4 linked regions of the Homo sapiens genome follow. The protein of the gene in region 1 binds, or shares a complex with, the protein of each later gene. Links are inferred from orthologs where the notes say so. Each region holds a gene or a part of one and is shown in the gene's direction. Other genes may lie near its edges. The genes, in order: GINS3, MCM3, GINS1 and GINS2.

The links.
Region 2: GINS3 (region 1) and MCM3 share a complex: the UniProt entries of both Homo sapiens proteins name them as parts of the CMG helicase complex.
Region 3: the proteins of GINS3 (region 1) and GINS1 are in contact, whole or in part, in a cryo-EM structure (PDB 8Q6O), measured with the Xenopus laevis proteins. The link is inferred for Homo sapiens from one-to-one orthologs. Residues at the interface, in NP_001080618.1 of Xenopus laevis: Trp2, Pro4, Tyr5, Met6, Pro7, Val8, Glu16, Asn17, Phe18, Leu19, Ser20, Leu21, Glu22, Asp23, Leu24, Leu25, Ser27, Gln28, Ser37, Phe39, Pro40, Arg41, Leu42, Phe44, Leu45, Pro63, Trp65, Leu66, Gly69, Leu70; in NP_001085502.1 of Xenopus laevis: Met1, Phe2, Cys3, Glu4, Ile7, Ile10, Arg11, Leu13, Gln14, Ser17, Asp18, Gly19, Gln20, Leu21, Glu49, Arg55, Asp57, Leu58, Pro60, Thr61, Lys63, Phe64, Arg65, Cys67, Cys68, Arg71, Arg74, Cys75, Val77, Ala78.
Region 4: the proteins of GINS3 (region 1) and GINS2 are in contact, whole or in part, in a crystal structure (PDB 2E9X), measured with the Homo sapiens proteins. Residues at the interface, in NP_073607.2 of Homo sapiens: Leu13, Gly14, Tyr117 (codon at 848), Ser121 (codon at 860), Leu124 (codon at 869), Asn131 (codon at 890), Ala132 (codon at 893), Ser135 (codon at 902), Gln136 (codon at 905), Leu138 (codon at 911), Leu139 (codon at 914), Gln140 (codon at 917), Phe142 (codon at 2,090), Ile143 (codon at 2,093), Phe146 (codon at 2,102), Arg147 (codon at 2,105), Ile149 (codon at 2,111), Met150 (codon at 2,114), Asp151 (codon at 2,117), Ser153 (codon at 2,123), Gln154 (codon at 2,126), Ala156 (codon at 2,132), Met171 (codon at 2,177), Gly174 (codon at 2,186), Leu175 (codon at 2,189), Thr178 (codon at 2,198), Gly179 (codon at 2,201), Gly182 (codon at 2,210), Leu183 (codon at 2,213), Asp185 (codon at 2,219); in NP_057179.1 of Homo sapiens: Asp2, Ala3, Ala4, Glu7, Met93, Glu94, Lys97, Asn101, Trp121 (codon at 344), Ile125 (codon at 356), Arg129 (codon at 368), Val130 (codon at 371), Ala132 (codon at 377), Asp133 (codon at 380), Val136 (codon at 389), Arg137 (codon at 392), Gln139 (codon at 398), Met151 (codon at 636), Thr155 (codon at 648), Ser156 (codon at 651), Thr158 (codon at 657), Phe159 (codon at 660), Leu160 (codon at 663), Gln162 (codon at 669), Ala163 (codon at 672), His166 (codon at 681), Met167 (codon at 684), Lys169 (codon at 690), Leu170 (codon at 693), Arg171 (codon at 696).

The regions. Positions count from the first base shown.
Region 1 is NC_000016.10:58,402,413-58,406,647, forward strand, and holds the end of GINS3 (DNA replication complex GINS protein PSF3), read left to right. Parts: intron 1-685; coding exon 686-919; intron 920-2,086; coding exon 2,087-2,317; 3' UTR 2,318-3,735; downstream 3,736-4,235. UniProt on the Homo sapiens protein: Required for correct functioning of the GINS complex, a complex that plays an essential role in the initiation of DNA replication, and progression of DNA replication forks.
Region 2 is NC_000006.12:52,281,705-52,288,774, reverse strand, and holds the start of MCM3 (DNA replication licensing factor MCM3), read left to right. Parts: upstream 1-4,032; 5' UTR 4,033-4,100; coding exon 4,101-4,178; intron 4,179-5,368; coding exon 5,369-5,481; intron 5,482-5,913; coding exon 5,914-6,122; intron 6,123-6,599; coding exon 6,600-6,730; intron 6,731-7,070. UniProt on the Homo sapiens protein: Acts as a component of the MCM2-7 complex (MCM complex) which is the replicative helicase essential for 'once per cell cycle' DNA replication initiation and elongation in eukaryotic cells.
Region 3 is NC_000020.11:25,424,659-25,431,716, forward strand, and holds part of GINS1 (DNA replication complex GINS protein PSF1), read left to right. Parts: intron 1-552; coding exon 553-669; intron 670-7,058. UniProt on the Homo sapiens protein: Required for correct functioning of the GINS complex, a complex that plays an essential role in the initiation of DNA replication, and progression of DNA replication forks.
Region 4 is NC_000016.10:85,675,698-85,678,954, reverse strand, and holds the end of GINS2 (DNA replication complex GINS protein PSF2), read left to right. Parts: intron 1-288; coding exon 289-415; intron 416-617; coding exon 618-743; 3' UTR 744-2,757; downstream 2,758-3,257. UniProt on the Homo sapiens protein: Required for correct functioning of the GINS complex, a complex that plays an essential role in the initiation of DNA replication, and progression of DNA replication forks.

The DNA.
Region 1 (4,235 bases):
CTGCTTCCACACCCACAAAGCTGCTCCCATCTTTTTGCAACAGTTCTCCCTTGTGAGAGTTTTGGCTCTTACTGCTTCATTCAATCCAGTTGTTTGCCTTTGATTTTTTTGGAGATTTATGACTCTTAATTTCTGGTCTGTCATGACCACCTCATCTTGTTTTCTAATTCTATTGAGGCTTTAAAAACTAGAGACATGTGTGCTGTCATCTCTGAAGCTGTGAAGTGGGATGGAAAGGGGCTGCCACTCAAGCTCAGGTTGATCTTATTTTTCTTTCTGACCCCTAGCATCCAATAGGGTGCTCAGTACATAGCAGGCACTCGGCAAGTGGATATTTAGAATAAATATTGAATATTCAAAGAAAAAGGAAATGTTTACTATAGCTCTGAAGTGTCTACAATTGGACAATTTTTATGTGTTAGTTAGAAAACTCTCACTTATGCTACATTTTTGTTCACCATGTTTTTGTTGTATAAATCCATTTTCTCTCTCCATTCCATCATCACATAAAACTTCAGCCCACACACTTCATTGCTTCGAGTCACGACCAGGTCTTCTGTGCTTGACAGCCACTCCCCCAAAGAGAAAAGGCAGTATTGCGCAGGCGATGTGTATTTCCTTTTCGTCACACACATTTGCTGTGTTACTTGTCTGTTTTTAAAATCTACATTCATGCATGCTGCAGGGTTCCAAGCTTGAACTACCCTTGTGGCTGGCAAAAGGACTTTTTGACAACAAGCGACGGATCCTTTCTGTGGAACTCCCCAAGATCTACCAAGAGGGTTGGAGGACTGTGTTCAGTGCAGATCCCAATGTGGTGGACCTCCACAAAATGGGGCCCCATTTCTACGGGTTTGGCTCCCAGCTCCTGCATTTTGACAGTCCCGAGAATGCAGACATTTCCCAGTCTCTGCTGCAGGCAAGTAATGGGTGTGAAAACCTGTGGTGCTGCACTTGTCTCAAGAGCCAGCCACAGATACTACTTTTACCCAGGACAGTGTATGACTTGTAAATTTAGTCTGTTTTTATTCCAGGTCAGCCTACAGTTACACTGTCTGTCCATTTTATATATTTACATATATACACACACACACACACACACACACACATTTTTTTAATATGACTTGTCTGCCACTCCTCATATTTGCTTGCTACAAGTTGAGGCCAGCAGGAACTCTAGGAAATGAGAAAAGGGTGATGATGGCCAGGCATGGTGGCTCACACCTGTAATCCCAGCACTTTGGGAGGCCAAGGCAGGAGGATCGCTGAGCCCAGGAGTTCAAGACCAACCTGGGCAACATAGTGAGATCCCATCTCTATTAAAAAGAAAAAAGAGAAAAAAAGGGCTATGGTGCATTACAGGTGACAGGCACTTAGATACACAGTCCCAGGCCTGGCCTAAGGGTTCCTGTTGGAAATACAAGAGTTATTGGGTTGTTTCCTTCCTTTGTTCTGGGGTTAGGGCTTGGCCCTGCCATGAACTAGCAATATGACTTGGTCAAGCTACTTGACCTCTCTAGACATCAATTCACCTGTAAGAATTGATGGAGATGATAATAGTGCCAAAATTATAGAGTTGTGGTAAAACTATGTAATGCCGTGTAATAAACAATAACTCATATTGTTATTACTTTTCCAGGACAAAACAATGTTATACATCTGTTCCCAACCTTTATGGTATAACCTTATTTTAATTTTTCATAATTACTTTTTTATTCTGTTACTGTTAGAAGAAACCATCATTTCTTCCTCTTGGGACAGAAGCATTTGCTACTAATGACAATAATAGGTGATGCTTCTCAAGGAGCTTGCTGTGTGCTAGCCATTTGCTAGGTGCATTACATGTATTCATTGGTTTTCTTAACAACTTACTGGATTTTCATAACAATCCACTTCACAGATGAGGAAATTGAGGCATGGCAATGTGCAATAACTTACTTGGGTGCTAGAGGGAATTCAGACCTCCTTCTGAGTCCTACACATCATTCTTTCTTTTCATGCCATTTAAATGTTCTGAGATAAAAATGGATATGACTTTGTGGGGTGTGAGGTCAACCCTGACTTGTCTTACTCCCTTGTTTCCCAGACTTTTATCGGACGTTTTCGCCGCATCATGGACTCCTCACAGAATGCTTACAACGAAGACACTTCAGCCCTGGTAGCCAGGCTAGACGAGATGGAGAGGGGCTTATTTCAAACAGGGCAGAAAGGACTGAATGACTTTCAGTGTTGGGAGAAGGGGCAGGCTTCTCAGATCACAGCTTCCAACCTCGTTCAGAATTACAAGAAGAGAAAATTCACTGATATGGAAGACTGAAAGCCGGAAGAACACAGAATGGCTCCTCACAGACGTATCCCTCCGTGTGTCCTTGATAGGAGCTGGTTGACCTTGTACAGAACCAGAATCCTGTCCCATTTCATGGCTTATTTCCTGTGGCCATAGAGAATTATAGGGAACTGGACATGCTGGAGGATGTGGGTGTCCCTGGCTCTGTGAGTCTTCCAGGACCGTCCCACCCTGCTGACCCACAGCCCAGGCCCTTTAACCCAAGAACCCATGGCCAAGGAGAAATCAAAGTCCTTCCTAAATAAGAATCACTGCCATATAATATATCACAGTAGAGTTGCAACTGAGATTCCTTGTGTCTGGGAGTTTGGACAGCTTCAGATGTACAGTTTCACTAGCCACAAAGCACAGGTACAAACTGGGTCATCGCCTGTTCACAAAATGCTCTCTTGATCTTATTTGCCTCATCTTCCTCATGGTTGTACAGAGGATAGCACCCCACCATGCCAGCCTGACTTGGAGATATCTCCTGCTGCCTGCCTGCAGGGAGTTACCCCAGTTTCCAAAAACAGTCGCCCAGATAAAGGAGGAAAAGGGAAAGGCAGACGAATGGCATGGCTTTTACTAAAGAAAAGATGTTGGCCTCATACTCTATACTCAGGGCTTAATGAACTGGAATCTGCATAACTCAGCAGTCAACCCAGAAGGGAAATGGTTAAACTGAGCTTGTTATTGCCTCGGAGAGCCTAAGAGCACCCGCACACTTAATTCTACTCCCTGTCTAGAAAAGCTGTCAGGGAGTCGTTTGGAATTGCAATGTAGTTATTAAGGGCTGTTAACCAGCCTGCATTACATCTGGAAGTCAGGACTTGGGTGCTGACTATGAAGGGCCCTGTTTTCAAAATCTAACATTGCAAGTGTAAATGGGCAAGAAGCCTCCGTTGTGCTTTTTTTTTCCTCTTCAGTAACTTTTGCAACATTATTGCATAGAAGATCCCTGACCATTTACTAGGAACCTGGTTAAGCAAGCACTAATCTCTTTTCCTGGAGATCAAGGATGCAACCTCAGGTTGAGAAAGAAACAGGGTTCCCTGGGCCCATTAGACTGTTTGCAGGGCATCACTGCTTCCCCCTGACACCTCACAACTAGCAAAAATTGTCTTTGTCTTTGGAAATTATAGAGGGATTTGGGTATCCAGATTGTGCAGATGCAAACTTAGGCTGTCTTGATGCAAACTTAGAACCACAGAAATGCTTTTAAAATGCCTGTTTTAAGATGGAATTGTTGTTTTTATAATTTGATTTTAGTGCTAAATAAATGATTGGCTTTGTACATGAATATGTTCTGTACAAGTGCTCTTTCACTAGTACTACAGATAATCAAAGCTATCAGAATTGTGTCTTTGATCATATTTGACGGTAATACACAAATCCATGTTTTAGCAGCTGCTCTTTTGCTTGTGTGGTACACATAAATAGGAGGTACATTCTCTGTAGGAGGGTGCTGTGTCCTAGGAAGATGAGATTTCCATTACTACCGCAGCATTTATATATAGCCAGGGCCCGAGAAACCATTCATAGAGCGAGAAAAGCATATTATTTAACTTTTGGCATCATTCTTTTCACACATAGCTTTATATTTAAAGTCAACTCTAAGTCTGCTGCCATTTTTTCCTACTTCCTAAAAAAAAGAAATTCCTCAGGGGCCATGTGTCAGGAATATGTAGGTATTCATGTCCAAAACTTAGCCCCTATTTTACATTTTGAACAGATTATATTACATGTAGCTTTTGAACTCATTTTCAATTACAGATCTGCCTTCAAGCCTGTCGGACTTCCCCTCTCCCCAGCAGCCCTCCAGTTAGTCGTTTAGATTTTGATTTGGTCCCTTCAAGAGGTTAATTTTTCAAAAAACACAACAAATGGGCTCAAATACCAAATTGCTATC
Region 2 (7,070 bases), on another chromosome or scaffold:
ATTGCTTGAACCCGAGAGGTAGAGGTGGCAGTGAGCCGAGATTGCACACTGCACTCCAGTCTGGGCGACAGAGCGAGACTTCGTCAAAAAAAAAAAAAAAAGAATGGGGGCTGGGCATGGTGGCTCACGCCAAGGTGGTAGGATCACTTGAGGCCAGGAGTTTAAGACCATTCTGGGCAGCATAGTGAACCTATCTCTCAGAAAGAAAAAGAATGGGGATGACTTCTTACGGACTAAGAAATCAGATTACTGAAATTAACCTTGGCAAATACCAATGAATCACTAATTGTTGGCAAGCCAACTGTGTTGTTATATTTAATGGGAAAATCATGATCACTGATGTTCTCTGTCTGGCTCCTGGATTTTCCGGCTCTTTTTAGCATATCTAACCGGAAGGACTCCAGGAAGCAACAGAAGAGTGCAAAAGGGAGACAAGAAAGGTGATCAGACTCGTTTATTTATTTATTTTTTGAGACAGAGTTTCACTTTTGTCACCCAGGCTGGAGTGCAATGGCGTGATCTTGGCTTATTGCAACCTCCGCCTCCTGGGTTCAAGCGATTATCCTGCCTCAGTCTTCCAAGTAGCTGGGATTATAGGTGCCGGCCACCATGCCTAGCTAATTTTTTTGTATTTTTGGTAGAGACGGGGTTTCACTATGTTGGCCAGGCTGGTCTTGAACTCCTGACCTCAGGTGATCCACTTGCCTCGGCCTCACAAATTGCTAGGATTACTGGTGTGAGCCACTGTGCCGGCTGACCAGACTCTTTTAAAAGAGTTTTATAAAGGAGTCCATTTAGTATTCCATAATGTTCTTTGAGCATGGAGTAAATGCATCTGATGGCTTCCAACACTGTCGGAATCCGAGCCAAACAACACCCTGCCTATGTTATTTTTTTTAGCCAATTGGACTTCCAGCAGAAAAAGGTCCCACTCAAGGAAGTGTCTGGGTTGGTTGTATTGTAAGTTTTTTGGTGGAAGTGGGAAGGGGGTTTGAATTTGGTTGTCTGAATTGTTTCAGAATGCACTACAGTGCTTCCTCCCCTTCTCCTATCCCTTGACTCCTCTCCAACTACCATTCACCACCACTACCAATGGTTAACATTTATTTAATGCTTACTACATACCAGGCACTTTTTTCAGTAGTTTACATCTGTTATGACTTCACTGGATACTTAAACATTTGAGTTAGATACTACTAACCTAATTTGAAAGGTGAAGAAACTGAGGCACAGAGTGGTTAAGTAAGTTGCCTAGTCGTGCAGGTAATATACAGAGCAGCCAGAAAGAGTAACCAAATCTGCCTGTCTTGGTGCTTGAAACTCTAGATGCTACAGCATCTGAAGATTCTGACTTCACACTGCAGAACTGTGAGGTTAGGGCAAGCCTGTGCCTACAGATTATTCCTTGAGCTGCTGTGACACCTGGAGGCATAGATTTGCTCACCTCCAAGCTTTGGTGGCCTTTGAGTAAATGTCAAAGGACTGCTAATGAATTATGGCACTTTCCTGAGTGCCTAAACAAGTTATTAATTACAGGGTATTATTTGAAATGTTTTGCAACATATAATGTTCATTAGTTTGAACAAAGGTATATATAATTTCTTGTAATAATATTTATTATGGATTTGTATTGTGTCTTTGGGTATTTTTTGGACCCTGAGGACATAGAAAAATGGCAGTATTACATCTATTTTGCAATCTCTTTGCAATCTTGTTTTCTTTCCATTCTCTTCCTGTATACTCTGCTCTCCAGGGAGCCCCCTAGCGTTTAGGCAGCCTTGGAGATGGGCTTGAGTCCATTAAAGTCTAGGGTGGAAAGAAAATTGAAATGGAGGAAAGCAGGAATGTGACCCAAGTATGGAAACTGTAGATACACTACTTTATTAGATTATATGTGCTTTTTAATTTTGAATCAGGATAGAGGAGGACTACGGGCTAAGCTCAGCTGGACTTTTTATGAGATATGTACAAATGCCCCTAATTTTTCTGTAGCAACAACCTGATTGATTTTGGGCAGTTTGCAGGTGTCGGGGATAACAAAGGAAATACATTTCCTCTGCTTAAAGATTTCATGCCCTAATGAAAGAAGGGAGAAACACCAATTAAATAGCGGTGTGTCCTTCACAGCTGAAGATGATTATATTGGGACAAATCAAGTCTTTATCAAAGACCATGGCATGATTAATTCATTAAATAGAATTGTCTTTACATAGTTTCCAAATTTGCCATTAGCTCATGGAATGTTAGAGTAAGACAGATTATCAGAGATATTCTAATTCAGTTTCTTCATCTTATACTGTATATAAGGAAACAAGCCCAGAAAAAAGTGTGAGAATCAAAGATGTGGTTTTCAGATTTCCACTCTTTTGGACTTTCTACTACAAATGACTCGACTTCTTTGCTAGTTTGAACTAAGCTTCCCGGTTCTTTTAGTGTTAATTTCAAATTGTTTCCAGAGCAGAGGATATCTCAGTACTCTGTCCAATAAGTTCATAAAATAAGAGTTATGAGTAAAAAGTCTTAATAAATCAGTAATTACCTCTTGCTATATAACGGCAAACAGTATCTTTATTCTAGAATTTTCTTTTTTTTTTGCCCGTTAATAAACATAAAAGCAAGCAGTCAAATGACAGCCTTTTTGCTTTGGCTAAGGATCGATTTATCTGCCCACTAGGATGGCACAAAACATACAGTAACTATAAACTGAATAATAACTAGAAATACATATACCCACACAAATAGATGGCCTATATATTTTGTTTAGGCAGATTATTCTTAGAATATTTATCAGTACATAGTGAGTCCTGAAGACTTTAAAACATAAGCTAATAGTTGGCTGAAATTTCAGATAAAGAATTATCAAATGTCTGATGTTGGGCAATCCAGTATTTCAGCTTCTTGTTCAGTAAAATTAAAAACACATGCTGGGGCAATGGGCTTGCTCTTTATTGTGCAGAGTGGTTACATGGGTGTAAGCACAGGTAAAAATTCACTGAGCTGTACACTTAAGATTTGTGCATTTTACTGTATATACATTATATCTCAAAATAAAACTAGAAATATAAGAAAAAGCCAACCACGACGGACTGAAAACAAACATACAAATTTGGACGTGCGATGATCTTTTAGTCATTATGGTTTCAGATTTGCTGTTAGTTACTGATTGATATTTAATCAAAGTGACGTGAAACACTTTTTCCCCTCTTGAGCTGATCGTTCAGTAAGCTAAGTTACTTAAAAGGATCTTGTGATCTTTTTATAAGACCAGAAAGCCTTTAATTTACCTGTTATTAAGTAAGATGGAGTAGTAACGGTTTCCAAAATTTGTATAACACACGATGAAGTCTCTAGGGGGCAGGGTAAACACAGATTTTTTTTTTCACTTCATCCTTCTCTGCGGCGATGTCTTTATGGAGTTCGTCAGGCAACGGTATCAGATAGCAAATGGGTTTTTAACTAATCTTTCCCTAAGGTACTGTAGTTCTATATTCTATCCTATAGATTCTCAAAATCCACTTTTACACTAGGATGCCACTGGAGGGCAGTTCTGATTTGGATATATCTTAAAAATGATTTGCTTTTATGTTTTCATCTCCCTGCGTTATAAAGCACCATCCTCTGAATTTGGTCGTTGCATCGGGTCAAAAGTTCTGCAGCTTGAAAAACCCTGCAAAAACATCCGGAAAGGAGGGAGAACACTACAACTCCCAGAACGCAATGCTTTCCCTCTCGCCAGCCTGTCCCCTCCAGCTGCTCAATGACCAGCCTCTGTGAGCCTCCTCTCAGCCCTATTGGTCAGTTTGCTCGTCAGTGAGTGAGGCGGAGGGAGGGGAGGAACAGAGAATCCCGGATGGTACGTTTCCCGCCACCGCGGGGCGCGCAGCGGAAAACCCGAAGAAGAAGAAGCTTTTGATTGGACAGTCGCTAGTCCGACCTCAGAGAACTCAGCCAATCATAATGCTTATATGCTCCCAAGGTCCCCGCCTCTTCCTCGAGGTAACCTTTGGTGGCGGGAAGAGTTCGGAAGTTTTCGCGCCGGGGTGGAGTCATCCTGGGAACCTCCACGCGACTTTGGTGGAGGTAGTTCTTTGGCAGCGGGCATGGCGGGTACCGTGGTGCTGGACGATGTGGAGCTGCGGGAGGCTCAGAGAGATTACCTGGACTTCCTGGACGACGAGGTGAGGGAGGCGCCGGCGCGCGGGCTCTAGCGCTCGGAGCCCCTGCGGACGCGGCCCGGCCGGGAAGCCAGAGGCCCGCCAGACCTCCAGACCGTGTGCCGCAGCGGAGCCTGCCGGGCCCGAGCCTCCAGCCCCAATCTTGTAACTTCTCAACGCCGGACTCGCTAGTTTGTGTTCGATAAGTGAACTCTTAGGAAGCCAGCTTTCTCTTAAGTACAAGCGATGGTCCGGGCGCGCAAAAGGCGACAGGTTCCCATTAAGTGCAAGCAGATTGGCAAAGCCCACCTCGGCCTTTTGCATTTCACTGCTCTCTCTTGATTTGAGGAGACTGTGGGGGAGGGGCTGCCCTAGGGCTATAGTGACCAGCCGCGTTGCAGAGTGCTCAGATTTTAGGGACTGACGTTTTACCTGGAGGAAAAGACTCCATAATTCGGCTGCATTCTTTTTCAATACCAACTAAGATGCAGATAAAAAGTGTTTTGTGTGCAGGCCAAGGGGATTTTATGTGCAACCCAAGACTTAAAGCCATAGAATGTTGAAAAAACCATCTTGAAGGGTTGATGATGTGACCAAATAGCTGAGATTCTCTATTCCTTTAGGTCGGGGTATGAGAACCCTTTCCGTATTATAGAGATGATTGGAAAAAATATTACTTTTTACATAATTCTTAAATGAAAAGCCATTTTAATGTGACTATTAAGAGTCTGTTTTATTTACATTTTTATTGTATATATTTGAAGTGCACATGTTTTGATATACATGGTGAAATGATTACTACAGTGAAACAACATATCCATCTATTCACGTTGTTACCTTTAACATTCACATTGCTAGGTTTAACTTAACATTTTAACAAAGTTTGCACTTACTGTCCATTTAGACTTCTCATGAGCTCATTTTAATTCTCCACTAAAGACAGAAATTACAGCATGCAGAAAAGTTGTCCATGATGATGGGAATAACAGCATGGACCTTGAGGAAGTCATTATAATTCTTATAGTCCCCTCTTAGGGTGTTATTTCGAATCTAAAAACAGTGAATGAAAGGGAGAAATTGATGAGCACATACTTACTGGGGATTCAGCTCTGCTGCAGAGATTGACTTAGCTATCTGGCTATGAGAACTACTTCTGTTTAGAAACATTGTTTTTAAATTTGTGGCTATGGTGATATGTGGTGGCTGTTTTGCAGGAAGACCAGGGAATTTATCAGAGCAAAGTTCGGGAGCTGATCAGTGACAACCAATACCGGCTGATTGTCAATGTGAATGACCTGCGCAGGAAAAACGAGAAGAGGGCTAACCGGTGAGAGGCAAGGGGATATACTGGCTGTCAGTGAGAATGGCTCCCTTCCCTCTTGGCCAGATTGGAACAGCCTCTCAGGAGAGGACTTGTATGAAACAGGATTGATCTACAAGCCCTCGTAGCTCACCTGCACCTATTTTTTTTTTTTTTTTTTTCAAAAAGTGGGTGGTTGGCATTTTCCTCCCAAATGCCCCTCCTTCCAATGTTTAGCTGAATATCATTTTTATATCTTTGATAAGTTGAGGTGAAGTTGGTCCTTAGTTCTGGTATTTTACTGAGTCTTATAGGATGGTGTTTTACTGAGACTTATAGGAGAAAGCAGAAGCTGGATTTTCTCATTGTTTTTAATGATCTAAGAATGTCTGCTGTTTTGAGGATCCATTTTTTTGAGTTCTGCCCAGTCTAATTTTTCTTTCTCTTGCTTATGTACAGGCTTCTGAACAATGCCTTTGAGGAGCTGGTTGCCTTCCAGCGGGCCTTAAAGGATTTTGTGGCCTCCATTGATGCTACCTATGCCAAGCAGTATGAGGAGTTCTACGTAGGACTGGAAGGCAGCTTTGGCTCCAAGCACGTCTCCCCGCGGACTCTTACCTCCTGCTTCCTCAGCTGTGTGGTCTGTGTGGAGGGCATTGTCACTAAATGTAAGTGGGTTAAAGGGGGCCGCTTAGGAAATGAATAGACAGGGAGATGGGGAAAGCAGGAGAGGCAAAGTAGATCTGGGTAGCTTGTGGCTTCAAAGAGGTGGAGCATTGGAATTACGTGGTAAAACTTGGAGGGCTCAGTGTGTACAATGATTGGGGGACCTTGAGTAATCACATGTATTAGTAGAATGATGAATTCTGCTGAGAGCTGGAGGAGTCTTGGTTCCTGGCAATCTCTAATTCCAACCTCTAACTCCACCTATTTATTAGTTGGGATTGGTGGTACTTAAAATTTTACATGGATATGGTGGTGGTCTATATATAAATAAAAAAGTGAATAAAAGGTAATATTGAAATATCGTAACCTAGTCAAAAAAACACAGTATTTGGAGTCATTATAGGCTTGCATATGTTTGGGTTCCACCTGTATCATCGTCTAGTTGGGTGAGTTTATATATGCACATTTTCCATCCCTAGGTTCTCTAGTTCGTCCCAAAGTCGTCCGCAGTGTCCACTACTGTCCTGCTACTAAGAAGACCATAGAGCGACGTTATTCTGATCTCACCACCCTGGTGGCCTTTCCCTCCAGCTCTGTCTATCCTACCAAGGTAAGGGGGATAAATCAGTTGAGCTGTCTTGGAGGTTGGAATCAAAGATACCTGTTTTAAGGCAAGGAATTGTGTAATATCTGAAGTCTTTTTTCTGTAAAGGGTGAAAAATAAGGATTAATCCAAAGGAAAGATTGATTGCAGGCCAGAGTTTAATATGAAAAGCCCACAATTCTTATTTATTTATTTATTTATTTTTAAAGATGAGGTTCTCCTATGTTGCCTAAGTTGGAGTGCAGTGGGTATTTGCAGGTGCAGTCATGGTGCACTAAATTTGCAAACTCCGGGGCTCAAGTGATCCTCCCAAGTAGTTGGGATTGCAGGCATGTGCTACGCCACC
Region 3 (7,058 bases), on another chromosome or scaffold:
CCGAATCTACTTTCTGTCTCTATAGATTTACCTATTACAGGTTTTTCATATGAGTAGAATCATGCAATATGTGGCCTTCTGTCTTTCATGTGGTAATGGCAATACGTTTCAGAACTTCATTGTTACTTATGGTTAAATAATGTTCCATCATATGGGCACATATCCATTCATCAGCTGGTGGACATTTGGGTTTTCTTAACAATGTTTTATAGTTTTCAGAAATAGCATCAATGCAGAGTTTGAAGATATAATTCTGAAATGGCGTCTTTTTCATGGTTCTGTTTCTGGTCAAAGATTCCTAAGGTTTATTATTAAGTATGCTGAAATGTAAGCTCTCTGAGAACAGAGATTTTTGTTCACTTTATTGAATGATTCATTGTAAGTACCCAGACCAATGCCTATATCATAGGAGGCAATTAATATTTTAGCATTAATGAATGAATGGTCACAACAGTGATTTGTGTTGGGATGTGTACTGTTTTCGAATGGATGATATTCAGTGTGTGCAAGTTTTCTTAGAATTTTGTCAAATGATCATCTCTATGTTTGCAGATGGAGTGGTTTAATAATTATAAAAGATCTCTTGCTACTTATATGAGGTCACTGGGAGGAGATGAAGGTTTGGACATTACACAGGATATGAAACCACCAAAAAGCCTATATATTGAAGTATGTATATCTTTTTAAAATGCATTTTTCTTTAATGTGTAAATTGTGCTACCTTTTAAGAAGAGAGGAGTATATGAATATGTGTTAGCTTCTATTAAAATAGAAAAGAAGCATAGACCAAATCAAACAAGCTACCTGTAGGGGGATGACAGAATACGATGGAACAGCTATAATTTTCTGAATATACCTGTTTTAATAGTTTTGAGTATGGAACCCTATAAATGTTTTAGCTATTACTAAAACAAAGTTAAATCAAAATGGAAAATCAGTCCCTAAATTTTGAAAGTAAAATGAAACAAATGTCAAAACAAAGTTAAATCAAAATGGAAAATCAGTCCCTAAATTTTGAAAGTAAAATGAAACAAATGTCAAAACAAAGTTAAATCAAAATGGAAAATCAATGCTAAATTTTGAAAGTAAAAAAAGCAAATGTCTTTCAAGTTGGTGGATTAGTCAAAACAAGAGGTATTTTTGTTTCATTTTGTTTATTTTTTCTATTTTTTAAATAATAAAATACATATAAAATCTACCATCTTAGCTATTTTTAAATGTACATTTAAGTGGTATTAAATATTGTTTAACATTCCATATTGTTTTGCAACTTTCATATTGTTTTGCAGCTGTCACCACCATTCCATATCCAGATTTTTTTCATCTTATAAAACTGAAACTCTACCCATTAAACAATAACTTCTCAATACCCCTGCCTCCCATCCCCCAGCAACCACCATTCTACTGTCTGTCTCTGATTTTGACTACTGTAACTACCTCATGTGAGTGGAATCATATAGTATTTGTCTTTTTGTTTTCTTTTGTTCTCGTTAGAGAATAATTTCTGAGAAGCTACAAATGACAAGTTATTTGTCTTTTTGTGACTGGCTTATTTCACTTAGCGTAATATCTTCAGGGTTCATTTCTGTGGTATCTGTGGTAAGAATTTGTGTCAGAATTTCCGGCTGGGCACGGTGGCTCATGCTTGTAATCCTAGCGCTTTGGGAGGCTGAGGAAGGAGGATCACCTGAGGTCGGGAGTTCAAGACTAGCCTGACCAACATGGAGAAACCCCGTCTCTACTAAAAATACAAAATTAGCCGGGCACATGCCTGTAATCCCAGCTACTTGGGAGGCTGAGGCAGGATAATCGCTAGAACCGGGGAGAAGGAGGTTGCGGTGAGCTGAGATTGCACCATTGCACAATTTTTTTTTTCTTTTTTTTGAGATGGAGTTTCACTCTTGTTGCCCAGGCTGGAGTCTAGTGGTGCGATCTTGGCTCACCGCAACCTCCGCCTCCTGGGTTCAAGTGATTCTCTGGCCTCAGCCTCCCAAACAGCTGGGATTACAGGCATGTGCCACCACCCCTGGCTAATTTTGTATCTTTAGTAGAGACTGGGTTTCTCCATGTTGGTCAGGCTGGTCTCGAACTCCCGAGCTCAGGTGATCCTCCCTCCTCGGCCTCCCAAAGTGCTGCGATTACAGGTGTGAGCCACTGCGCCTGGCCCAGAATTTCCTTCCTTTTTAAGGATGAGTAATATTCCTTTTTCTGGCTATACCACATTTTGCTTATCCATTTATCCATCTATGGACACTGGGTTGCTTCTTTATTTTAGCTATCATTTTATGATCAATGCTGCTATGAACGTGGATATATAAATCTCTTTGAGACTCTGCTTTTAATTTTGGGGGGCATATATCCAGAGTGGAATTACTAGATCATATGGTAATACTATGTTTGAGGAATTGTCATACTGCTTTCCACAGCAGCCATACCATTTTACATTCCAACATTACGCAAGGGTTCCATTTTCTCCACATCCTCACCAACACTAAATATTTTGGGGTTATTTTGTTTCGTTTTTGAGACAGAGTTTTGCTCTTGTCACCCAGGCTGGATGCAGTGGCGCGATCTCGGCTCAACCTGCAACCTCCACCTCCCAGGTTCACCTCAACTGCAACCTCCACCTCCCAGGTTCAAGTGATTCTCCTGCCTCAGCCTCCCAAGTAGCTGGGATTACAGGTGCCCACCACCACACCTGGCTAATTTTTGTATTTTTAGTAGAGACACGGTTTCACCATTTTGGCCAGGCTGGTCTTGAACTCCTGACCTCAGGTGATCCTCCCGCCTCAGCCTCCCAAAGGCATGAGTCACCATGCCTGGCCTTGTTCTGTTTTTTAATCATAGCCATCCTAAAGGATGTAAAACGTGGTTTTGACTTTTATTTCCCTAATGATTAGTGATGTTGAGCATCTTTTCATATGCTTATTAGCTATTCCTGTGTCTTCTTTGGAGAAATGTTTATTCAAATAATTGGCCCCCTTTATGGGGCCCATTTTCAAATAGGGTTTTGTTGTTGTGGAGATTTAGAAATCCTTTATGTATTCAGTATGTTAATTTGTTATCAGATATATGATTTGCAAATATTTTCTCCCATTCTCTGGGTTGCCTTTTTATGCTGTTGATAGTGTCTTTTTTTTTCTTTTTTTTCTGTTTTCTTCCTTCAGTATCATGTTGATATTTTAAAATTTTCATGCAGCCCAGTTCGTCATTTTTTTTTTTTTTTTTTTGAGATGGAATTTTGCTCTTGTTGCCCAGGCTAGAATGCAGTGGTGTGATCTCGGCTCACTGCAACCCCTGCTTCCTGGGTTCAAGCGATTCTCCTGCCTCAGCCTCCTGAGTAGCTGGGATTACAGGCATGCACCACCACACCCAGCTAATTTTTTGTATTGTTAGCAGAGATAGGGTTTCATCATGTTGGCCAGGCTGGTCTTGAAATCCTGACTTCAGGTGATCCACCCACCTTGGCCTCCCAAAGTGCAGGGATTACAGGCGTGAGCCATCGCACCCGGCCAATTTTTTTTGTTTTGTTGGTTGTGCCTTAGGAGTCATATCCCAGAAATCATTGCTAAATACAATGTCATAAAACTTTTGACCTGTATTTCCTTCTAAGTATTATGTTGTTTTACATTTGCATTTCGGTCTTTGATCCATTTCAAGTTAATTTTTGTATGGTGTTAGGTGATGGTCCAACTTTATTTTTTTGCATGTGGAAATCTAGCTTTCCAAGCATAATTTCTTTTTTTTTTTTTTTTTTTTTTTTGAGACAGAGTCTCTGTCTGTCGCCCAGGCTGGAGTGCAGTGGCACAATCTCGGCTCACTGCAAGCTCTGCCTCCTGGGTTCACGCCATTCTCCTGCCTCAGCCTCCCGAGTAGCTGGGACCACAGGTGCCCACCACGACGCCCAGCTAATTTTTTGTATTTTTTAGTAGAGACGGGGTTTCACCGTGTTAGCCAGGATGGTCTGGATCTCCTAACCTTGTGATCCGCCCACCTCGGCCTCCCAAAGTGCTGGGATTACAGGTGTGAGCCACCGCACCCGGCCTCCAAGCATAATTTCTTAATAAGACTGCCCTTTCCCCATTGTGAATGGTTTTGACACTCTTGTCAAAAATCATTTGACTATGTAGGCAAGGGTTTATTTTTTATCTCTTTATCCTATTCCATTGTTCTGTACATCTGTCGTAAAAAAAGTTTTTTTAATATATATATACATCTGTCTTTATGCCAGAACTGTAGTATTTCGATTGTTGTAGCTTTGCAGTAAGTTTAAATTAGGGATTTTGGGTCCTCCACCTTCATTCCTCTCTCTTTTTTTTTTTTTTTTTTTTTTTTTTTTTTTTTTTTTGAAACGAAGTCTTGCTCTGTCGCCCAGGCTGGAGTACAGTGGTGCACTCTTGGCTCACTGCAACCTCCACCTCCTGGGTTCAAGTGATTCTCCTTTCTCAGCCTCCCAAGTAGCTGAGACTAAAGGCGCCTACCACCATGCCCGGCTAATTTTTTATAGTTTTAGTAGAGATGGGGTTTCACCATGTTGGCTAGGCTGGTCTCGAACTCCTGACCTCAGGTGATCCGCCCACCTCAGCCTCCCAGAGTGCCGGATTACAGGCATGAGCCACCACGCCCGGCCCCATTCCTCTTTTTAAAGGTTGTTTTCACTATTTGAGATTTTATATGGATTGTGGGATGGGTTTTTCTGTTTCTCCAAAAGACACTTTTGGGATTATAGTAGGGATTGTGTAGGTCACTTAGGGTGCATTGACATCTTAATATTAAATCTTCCAATCCATGAACATGGGATGTGTTTCCAATTGTTGATGTCATCTTTAATTTTCTTCAGCAGTGTTTTTTAGTTTTCATTGTTCAAATCTTTCTCCTCTTTCGTTAATTTAATTTCTATATATTTTATTCTTTTCGCACTGATAAACTGAATTATTTTCATAATTTTTATTTTCAGATTGTTCGTTGTTAGTGTATAGAAATGCAACTGATTTTTGTGTGTTGACTTTGCATCCTGTTACTGTGCTGAATTCATTTATTAGTTCTAAAAGTTTTTTGTGGAATCATTAAAATTTTCTACATGTAAGATCATATCATCTGCAAACAGATAATTTTAGTTTTTCCTTTTTAATTTAGAATCCTATTTCTTTTTCTTGTCTAATTACTCTGACTGTAACTCCAGTTTTATGTTGAATAGAAGTGGCAAAAGCAGAAATCTTTTGCCTTCTTAGTGAACTTAGAGGAAAAGCTTTCAGTCTTTCTTTTTCTTTTTGAGACAGAGTCTTGCTCTGTTGCCCAGGTTGGAGTGCAGTGGCACAATCTCAGCTCACTTCAACGTCCGCCTCCTAGGTTCAAGCGATTCTCCTGCCACAGCCTCCTAAGTAGCTAGGACTACAGGCACATGCCATCACGCCCAGCTAATTTTTGTATTTTTATTAGAGACAGGGTTTTACCATAGAGGCCAGGCTGGTTTTGAACTCCTGACCTCATCATCCACCCGCCTTGGCCTCCCAAAGTGCTGGGATTATAGGCGTGAGCCACCGTGCCTGGCCAGCTTTCAGTCTTTCACCATTGAATATGATGTTTGCTGTAGAGTTTCCATATATGGCTTTTATTATGTTGATGTATAGTTATCTTCTGTTCCTAGTTTGTTGAGTATTTTTATGAAAGGAAGTTGAATTTTGTCAAACGCTTTTTCTGTATCAATTGAAATGATCATGTTTTTTTCCCTTCGTTCTGTTAATGACTTATATTGATTGATTTTCATATCTTGAACTGTCCTTGCATTCCAAAAATAAATCTCAATTGATTTATGATGAACTCTTTTACTATGCTGCTGAATTTGATTTGATACTATTGTGGTGATAATTTTTTTAATTTTTATTTTTCAAGACGGAGTTTTGGTCTGGTTGCCCAGGCTGGAGTGCAATGGCACGATCTTGACTCACCGCAACCTCTGCCTCCTGGGTTCAAGCGATTCTCCTGCCTCAGCCTCCCAAGTAGCTGCGATTACAGGCATGTGCCACCACACCCGGCTAATTTTGTGTTTTTAGTAGAGATGGGGTTTCTCCATGTTGGTCAGGCTGGTCTCGAACTCCCGACCTCAGGTGATCCTCCCGCCTTGGCCTCCCAAAGTGCTGGGATTACAGGCGTGAGCCACCATGCCTGGCCTGTGTTGAGAATTTTTGCATCAGTGTTCATAAGGGACATTGGTCTATAGTTTTCTTGGAGTATCTTTTCTGGCTTTGGTATTAGGGTAATGCTGGCCTCATAAAATGAGTTAGGGAGGTGTTCCCTCCTTTTATATTTTTTAGAAAAGTTTGAGAAGGATTGGTGTTCTTGAAATGTTTGATAGAGTTACCCAGTGAAGCCATCAGCTCTAGGGTTTTCTTTATTGAGAGATTTTTGATTAGTGATTGAGTCCCCTTACTAGCTATAGGTCTATTCCAATTTACTAGTTCTTAATCATTCAGTCTTTGTAGGTTTGTGTTTCTGGGAATTTGTCCATTTCATCTAGGTTTTCCAATTTGTTGGTGTACAATTGTTCATAGGACTCTTAGAACTCTTTTTATTTCTGTAGGATTGGTAGTAATGTCCTCACTTTCATTTTTGATTTTAGTAATTTGAGCCTTCTTTTATTCTTAGTCTGTCTAGCTAAAGGTTTGTAAATTTTGTTGACCTTTTAAAATAACCAAATTTTAGTTTTATTGGTTTTCTCTATGAGTGTTTCTGTTCTTCATTTTATTAATGTCTGCTCTAATCATTATTTCCTCCTTCTAGCTTTAGGTTTAGCTTGCTTTTCTTTTTCTGGTTCCTTAAGATGTAAAGTTAGGTGGTTGGCTTGAAATTTGTCTTCTTTCGTTTTTGTTTTTGTTTCTTTTTTCTTTTTCTTTTTCTTTTTCCTTTTTTCTTTTTTCTTTTTTTTTTTTTGAGACAGGATCTCACTCTGTTACCCAGGCTGTAGTGCAGTGTCACAATCTCAGCTCACTTCATCCTCCGCCTCCAGGGTTCAAGTGATTCCCATGCCTCAGCCTCCCGAGTAGCTGGGACTGTAGGGG
Region 4 (3,257 bases), about 27 Mb from region 1:
GGCTTCTGACTTAGAGCTGATTCTCTACTAATTTTCTTAGGTAAACAGCAGTCCTGTTCAGCAGCCTGCCATGGGATAGTTAATGTGAGCAAAAGAAACTCCATGTGGATCACTGCCGCACCAAGCTTAACTGCTACAAATCTTTACACCCTAAAGTTGAAAATAAAGCAAAACAGACTTTCTGAGTCTGGAATAGCCACGGTATTTTGCCTGAAAAGAGCCACTCTATCCAGCATTGCCTCAGGTTATCAAGTGTTCCCCGACTGACTTTAGCCCTTGCTCCTTTAGTGCTTCAGACAACATCCCGAAGGCAGACGAAATCCGGACCCTGGTCAAGGATATGTGGGACACTCGTATAGCCAAACTCCGAGTGTCTGCTGACAGCTTTGTGAGACAGCAGGAGGCACATGCCAAGGTAGGTGCCGCCTTGCCTGGGTGCTGGTGGCCTTGATGCCGCATAATTTCACATGGCTCCCGTCTGCTGAGGCTATTACAGGCAGGCATTACTAGCTGTGCTTTTCAACAGTTCATTGGTTTCTTATTTTTATTCAGTAGAGTTTACCTTTTTCTCAAAATCAAAAACTCCTTGGCCAACTTGGTCTGTTTTCTTGCTTTAGCTGGATAACTTGACCTTGATGGAGATCAACACCAGCGGGACTTTCCTCACACAAGCGCTCAACCACATGTACAAACTCCGCACGAACCTCCAGCCTCTGGAGAGTACTCAGTCTCAGGACTTCTAGAGAAAGGCCTGGTGCAGGCGGCTTGCTGGGGGATGTGAGCGCTCAGGACGTGATGAGGTACTCGTGGTTCTGGAGCTCTAGAAACACTTCTGATGCATGAAAAATGTGTGATGGTGCAAGGAATGGATTCAGGATGTTGTTGGAGAAACAAGTTTGTGATTAGTCCTTAAAACTTAGCTCCCTGGGACATTCTTCAATTCCACATCTGTTTCTAGAAACCAGCCCTTTTTCCCCCCACTTTTGAGAAATAAAAAAGCCTTAGGTAAATAAGTCATTCTCCCTAGCAGAGCCACTTGGGTCTCCTGCATGGAAGCCATCACACTTGGGCAGGTGTTCAGTGACTGGTAGGTGTAGATACAGCAGGAGTGGCCATGTGGTCCACGGCTTTTTACCCCTTCTTGATCCTGATTTCTTGGGCTGAATTTAGACTCTCTCACAGAGGTGGCTCACAGAGAAGGATGGCAGATGGTGCAGCCAACAATGCTGACCGGTGCTTATCCTCTAAGCCCTGATCCACAATAAAAATGGACCCAACTCAGCTCTGACTCTCTAGGTTTTTGTGCTGCGTAACTACCAAGTAAAAGGACTGAGCCTGTGGCTGAGATGACTCAGTCAACGAAACTGAGGCACACGGCAGTTAAGTGGAAACTGCAGACCAACACCTGGGGTGTCTCCTTCTCTTGGCTACTTCTAGCTCAGGTTTAATGGGTTGCTTATCAAGAGGAGAGTCAGGAAAAAAACGAATCCAATGTATTGAGCATGAGTGACAATGTATTGAGCATGAGTGACAATGCTAGAAGAAAAGTCACTTTCAGTGCTGCTCTTGATGGATTTGGGGAAGGATTCTTTGTTGTAGGTAACAGTGGGCTCAGGGGAAATTATTTTTTTCCTAAGAGAAAATTACTTTATTCGTAGCATTTTGGAAATGTTAGGACCTTTACAGAAATTACATTACCTTGAGAGGTGAAATGATCGTCCAGCATCATGCAATGGATAGAAGGTTCTGTAATCAGCTTTAAAAAAAACTTTAATTTTTGGCCGGGCACATTGGCTTGGCTCATGCATGTAATCCCAGCACTTTGGGAGGCCAAGGCAGGTGGATCACAAGGCCAGGAGATTGAGACTATCCTGGCTAACATGGTGAAACCCCGTCTCTATTAAAAATACAAAAAAAAAAAAATTTGCCAGGTGTGGTGGCACACGCCTATAGTCGCAGCTACTCGGGAGGCTGAGGCAGGAGAATCGCTTGAACCCGAGAGGCGGAGGTTGTAGTGAGCCAAGATTGCACCACTGTACTCCTGCCTGGGCAACGAGAGCAAGACTCTGTCTCAAACAAAAAAAATTTTAACTTTTTTTTTAGACAGGGTCTCGTTCTGTCATCCAGGCTGCAGTAGAGTGGCGTGATTATAGCTCACTGCAGCCTCGAACTCCTGGGTTCACACAGTTCTCCCACCACAGCCTCCCAAAGCACTGGGATTGCAAGCATGAGCCGCCATGCCTGGCCAGCCTATTTTTGGCTGGACACCAGTGGGCCAAAAGCAGTGGGGTGCTGTCTGGGGAGCTCTGAGAATGCGCATGTGTGACAGGCTGAGCCTAAAGACTTATCACCCAGCATCTGCCCTCCAGTGTCTAGCATGCTGCACACTATCACTCCATGTTGCTGCCCACGTGTCCCCGCCAGGCAGGTTTTGGTGGTTATTTGGACACTGAAGGGTCAGACCTGGAAGACTGGGACCAAAAGATGAGGTCTCCATAATTTAAGGTGCTGTTCAGACTTGGTTCAGCTCATAGGACTTGTTCTTTCATCTCAGCCTTCCTTGGAATCCTCCTGCTTTCATCTGGGGATCTTTTAGAATGAAACCACTTGTTATTGTGGAGGGCAAGGGGTCCTAATGCCCTCCTCTTAGAGCCTGAGCCAGTGGAGGCAGCTCCGTCTGCGGAGATGTATAGTTATTGAGCTTTTCTTTGTTTGGCTTTGTTTTATATCATAAAAAAGATTTTCCTCTTAACATAATTTAGGAAGATTTTATTTTTTGGATGTTGTCAGAAATTACAGCAATATATTCATAAATACCTAATTACTACATTCAACAAATAATATTACAATACAATTAATTCAAACAAGTACACTTAGAACAGGTTTAATTTCACAGCATCTAAACTGCCCCCAGAGTGACCGAGGCACCGGTGTTCCTCCCTCCCACCTGCGTATGGGGTTTACTGTTATAGAATTAAGCACAGGGTACATACAAAATAACACCAGTTAGCATGGTCTTCCTCAGGTCAAGGCAGAGTTAAGGAGTTTTTTAGGTTAAGCACTGGATGGAAAAGTTGGGGACAGGCTACTGCAAGTAGTAAGAAAGTCAACAGCTTGGTTACTTGAAAGAATATAGAGATTGCTAAGTGGCTAATATACACTTTAAAGAGGAACAGAATCGGTTTGTGCTGACCATCTCCATCTTGTGGTGGATCCCTGGCATTTTCTACACTTGTGTGAAACATGTGGCTCAGGGA